Regions from separate parts of the Homo sapiens genome. Here region 1 is linked to region 2. The links come from fine-mapping of genetic effects on gene expression. Tissue or cell type: lung. Region 2 holds a variant in brackets; the other region holds the start of a gene. All regions are shown on one strand. Distances are between the middles of the regions.

The links. PIP is the estimated chance that this variant, and not a neighbour inherited with it, causes the effect.
Region 1: RASGEF1A starts here. The variant in region 2 is fine-mapped to the expression of RASGEF1A in lung (TOPMed, PIP 0.98).

Annotation. Positions count from the first base shown.
Region 1 is chr10:43,265,764-43,268,437 of GRCh38, forward strand. It overlaps RASGEF1A (RasGEF domain family member 1A), which reads right to left and starts at 1,302. Exons shown (of 13, transcript NM_145313.4): 1 at 1,082-1,302. RefSeq lists an enhancer at 1-807.
Region 2 is chr10:43,207,738-43,210,411 of GRCh38, forward strand. The region is part of intron 1 of RASGEF1A (RasGEF domain family member 1A); the gene reads right to left. Among named protein-coding and RNA genes, the nearest start is that of RASGEF1A, 58 kb to the right of the region's middle. The variant C/G (reference allele first, on the strand shown) is at 1,452.

The DNA of each region.
Region 1 (2,674 bases), 58 kb after region 2:
TAGAGTCCAGGGCACCGAGGTGGACAGGCTGGGCTGGCAAGACTGCATCCGGAGGGGGCGGGAGAACCCTGGGGGGACAGAGGGAACCAAGGCCTCTGGGAGGCTCCCCTGCACCCAGCCTGACTCCTGTGTTTCAGGATCCTGCGGCCGACGGCCATCGGGGCCCTTCCTGCGCAGGACAGTGGGAGAAGAGTGGCAGTGGTGGGGAGGGTGAACCAGGGAGAAGCTCACTGCTCTGAGCAGGGAGGGAGGGAGCCCCGGCCACCACCAGGTCTCTGCCCCCAGGTGGCTCCCAAGAGGCAGGCAGCGGCCTCTCTGTAAATATCCACCAGGTCCAGCACCCAGAGGCAGCCAGAAATGCAGGGCACAGGAACCTGCCAGCGCGTCCCTCCACACACAGCAGGGGACTCCCGCCCCCACCTCTCACTCACCGACCCTCGGACCAGAACCAGCTGCACCTGCCCCGTTCCTGGGGCCGGCAAGGCCTGGGGCAAAGAGAGCGTGGTCCTTCAAATGACCCTTGCCCAGCAGGGAGAGGGAGACACCTGGCATGGCCCTGGACCTCTCCCCCAAATGCAGAGCTCAAGCCCCAATTCCTCGCCAAACAGCAAGGGCGTGAGATACCACGGCGGGGCCCAGAATGCAGAAGAGCAAATGGAAACTTCCAACTGCGCAGCCCTGAGCTCCTCCGATTCCCCAGCCCCCACCCCCACGCCAGGCCCCGGGCAGCGAACCTGCCCGCAGTGCCCACGCCCGCCCGCCGCGTGCGCTCCTGCCACGCCCGGCCCGGCCCGGCCCGGCCCGCCAGGTGCCCTGAAGGGGCGGAGGGTGCAGGGGGTCCTGGCGCCGTCCAGCCCGGGGCGGAGTTCTCAGCAACTCCGCGCGCCGGGATCCCGGCCGCCCTCCCCGCGCGCGTCCCCCGCCCCGCGCCCGGAGCCCGCGCCCCGGCCCCACGACGGCCGCGCCGGGAGGGACCCCGGGCCCGCGCACGCCGCGCCCTGCCCGCGCCGGCGACCGGAGGGCACGGCCCCAGGCGCGGGCGGGGGCCCCGAGGCACTGAGGGTCCGCGGCCGCTGCCTACCTCGGTCCGGGCCAGCGTCGCTCCCGCGCCGCCCTCGCGCCGCAGTCGGGCCCCGAGCAGCGCGCGGCCGGCGCCGGCGGCGGCTCATGCTCGGCGCCCGGGCCCGCGGCACCCGCCCACCCGCGGCCGCCCCCGCGCTGCGCCAGCTGCGGGCAGAGCAGCTCCCTCCGCAGCCGGCGCCGGGGAGCGCGAGCGAGCGAGCGAACGAGCGAGCGCGGAGCGAGCGCCGAGCGGGCACGGAGCGGGCGCGAGAGCGCGGGGAGCGGGGGAGCGGGCGGGCGCGGGACGCGGAGGGAGGAGGGTGCGGGGCAAAGGTGCAGGGGGAGGTAGGGCGCGGGACGGGGCTCGAGCAGAGGGCACTGGGACAGGGCGGGCGCCGGGAGAGGGCGGCCAGGCTTTCATTTAAAAAGGATAAGGCATCACGCCTGTAATCCCAGCACTTTGGGAGGCCGAGACGGGCGGATCACGAGGTCAGGAGATCGAGACCATCCCGGCTAACACGGTGAAACCCCATCTCTACTAAAAATACAAAAAAAAAAATTAGCCGGGCGTGGTGGCGGGCGCCTGTAGTCCCAGCTACTCGGGAGGCTGAGGGAGGAGAATGGTGTAAACTCGGGAGGTGGAGCTTGCAGTGAGCCGAGATCGCGCCACTGCACTCCAGCCTGGGTAACAGAGTGAGACTCCGTCTCAAAAAAAAAAAAAAAAAAAAAAAAAAAAGGATCAGGCAGCAGACAAGCTAGGAGGCGATGCGGCCACCGCATTTAAAAGGCCCTCTGGGGACTCCCGCAGAGCTGGCAAAATTTTTGTCAGTGGAATCAGACGGTGAAAGCCCTTCTGTGGGCAAGTCCTGGCCCCTTGGGTCACTCCCCTTAACCATCTTAATCGCCCTGTAAGGTCGGTGGTGGATTTGTTCCCATTGGACAGGTTAGTAAACTGATGCACAGGGAGTGCGGTTACCCTGCAGGGTCTCAGAGCCTATAAGTGGCAGAGCAAGGCTCCAAAGCCACCTTGAAAGATTTCAGAACCACTAAAGCAGGACACAGGTCTTCTGGCGTCCACTGGAACTTCCTGTCGCTCTGAAGGGTCACCTTCTCTTGAACGGACACCCTGTGGCCTGACCCCAGGGTGGCCCAGAGTGACTCTTGCAGGCAGTCAGACGAGGGCCAGTGAGAAACAGGTCTGGGGCGACGATGTCCCCAGGTGGAGGGGTCTGTGTGAAAAAATGGGGAGGAGCCCCACAGCACCCCTTGAAGAGGCTGAGGACCTTGCTTACTCACTTAGTCCTTGTGTCTTGAACACCTGTATGCCAGGTGTAAGATGGGGCACTGGGATTCGGCTGTGAATGTCTCTGTCTGGTTGGAGTTTGCATTCTTGTGGGAAGTAGGCAGTGAATAAAAATACACATAAATAGTTCATGTGTCAGATGCTGCAGATCCCACAGAGAGGCCCAGCAGGGAGAGGGAGCCAGCGAAGGGAGGGGGAGGGGAGCTTGTAGGGTGGGGGATTCTTTTTTATTTTTTAAGGGGAGGTGTCACTGTGTGGCCCAGGCTGGAGTGCAGTGGCTATTCACAGGTGCAATCACTATGCTCTACA
Region 2 (2,674 bases):
AGCCCCAGACCTGCTGGTCAGAAACTCTGGGGTGGACTGCTTCTGTACCCCAACGCGCTCTCCACTCCAGCCCAGGAACCACTGATGTGAGCCAATCCTTCATTTTTCAGATGGTGAAACTGAGGCCCAGTGGGAAGGAACTCAACTAAGGAAACCCCAGGAGTTCCAAGTCCAGCCTAGGTGTCACCACCTCCAGGAAGCCTCCCTGGGTTTAACCTAGACTGTTGACCCACAAAGCCAGAAGTGGCTGTATCATTCACCTGTGTATCCTATCGCTGGCCCAGGGTGGCACTCAGTGACCATTTGTGCAATGAAGTCACGAAGGCGGGCTCACAAACCCCTTGTTGCCCACAGCTGCTCAGCACTGTCTCAGGCATCTGAGGCCAATGCACTGTGGGACAACCTCCCCAAGATCACACAGTTCTGGGTTCAAAAGGCGACCAGCAGGTGGTAACCTTGGTCAGTTGGGCCTCCTCACCCCAAGCTCTTGGGGTCATCAGAGAGGGCATTTGCCGAGCCACTGGCCTCTCCCACTGCAGGCTGCTCTGGTCAGGAGGTAGTATGTGGGGGATGCACTCTGACACCCCACAAACTCAGCCCCAGCCGATCCCCCACAGGGCAAGGCCACTCCATGTCCAGCCTGCAGAGAGACCTGCCTCAGTGCTAGGAGGCCTGCCTAGGAGTTGAGGAGCCATCCTGGGGACCCAGCCCACTGGTCAGCAGCCAGAGAGGGGCTGGGAAGGCCACGCCTTCGAGGGTGGGGGCCTGGAGGAGGAGCATGCAGGGGTGTCCCAGGCAAGCAGAGGTTCTGCACATGCTCAGAATCCCTTTGGGGAGTCAGCAGAGCCTGAGGGGGACCGTGTGGAGCCGCACTGACCTGAGAGGTGGGGTGCTCTGGGTTCCTTCTGTCCTGCCTACCTGGAGACCCACCTGGGGACACGGCCCAGGGCTAGGTCTCCTGCATCCAACAAACCAAGACCCTGCAGGTCTGGGGGATGCCCCATGAGCCCCTACCCCCGAAAGCTCAAACCTAGCAGGGCCCACCCTGCCCAGCCACGGAGCACTTCGAGGAGGGTCTCCAGGGCTCAGTGCCAAGTGGAGAGGCAGGTTCCCTACATGGCTTTTCCCGGGCAGGAATGCCGGCCCTGCAGCAGGCCCACTCCTTGTTCCTGGGTGCATCTGGCCAGCCCTCCACCTTCCCAGCTGTGAAATGGTGATGATGACAGCACTTCCACTGCGGGGTCCCCTGCCGGCCACCCCCACCCAGCCCTGAGGTCGCTTGTTCTTGCACCTGCTTCCTCCTTGCCCCAACAGCAGGGGCAGGCACTTCGACAGGCAGCTGCAAACCTGTGTATCTGAACAGCTGTGTCCACCACCAGGCAGCCCCTTCCCAAGGAAGAATTGCACACTGGGCTCTTGGCTCCAGTCACAGCAATAGCCATCATGATACA[C/G]CGATGGCCAGGGTGCTGAACACTGAAAACCGCAAGGCTACAGTTGAAGAATCCCAGTTACTCTTCCCAGTCACCCCCTATGCTCCCAGAGAACCCGTTATTCCCTTACGCAGACGAGGGGTGAGTACCTGCCCCAGGTCACAGCCAGAGGGCAACAGTGCCAGGATTCATGCCGAGCAAGCAGCAGGGGTAGGCAGGGAGCCCAAGTCCGAGCCTGGCTCCACCACCTGTCTTGGCTATGTCAAGATCCTCAAACCCTTGGAGCCTTAACTTCTTTGTCTGTAAAATGGGCACAGGGAGCACTACTTCAGAGGTTTGCAGGGAAGATCAGAGGAGCCCCTGTGTAAGGTGCTGGGCACCAGGTGCCTCCTCACCCCCAGGAGCTGATTCCCACCAGCATGATTGCTCAGCACCCCTACAGACCACACAGGAGGCACTGCTTATTCTAGACACACTGGCCCTTTGTGTTTGGGCACTGTGGAGAGCTCAGGAAGCCCCCCCACCAGGGCTAGGCAGAGATAGGGCTGTGGCGGGCCAGCTTGCTCAACCAGCATTTGTGGGAACCATCACCTCCACCCCAAGTCCAGCTGGGGCTGGCCTGGACAGAGCAGGCCACCCTGACCCCAGAGAGCCAGACCCTGCATGGATGCTCTAAGGCCAGGTGTGGTCCCCAGAGCAGGAGCAGTACCTTCTCCTGAGCCAGAAACTGGTGGGAGTGGGCCCAGTGCTCCCCTTTCAGGTAGCTCAGCTGCACACTGGCGTTCTAGACCCTTCCCCTACAGCCTCTCAGTTCCAAGTGTGGCCGCTGGACCTGCAGCTAAAGCATGACCTGTCGATTGTCAAAGAGCAGATCTCAAGTTCCAGGCCAGGCCTGCTGGGTCACATCTGCTGCTGAGCAAGACACCAGGTGAATCATGTGCAGGTGAATGGAAGGCCCGGGAAGCCCACCTGTGTGAGAACCTCAGCCTCCAGGTAAGCTGCACCGGCTAACTCAGAGCAGGGGCCTGGTACGGAGGCTCATGCCTGTAATCCCAGCACTTTGAGAGGCCGAGGTGGATGGATCGCTTGAACTCAGGAGTTGGAGACAAGCCTGGGTAACATAGAGACCCCTGTCTCTACTAACATTCAAAAAAAAATTAGCCAGGTGTGGTGGCACAGGCCTGTGGTTCCAGCTACTTGGGGAGCTGAGGCAGGAGGATCACTTGAGCCCAGGAGGTTGAGGC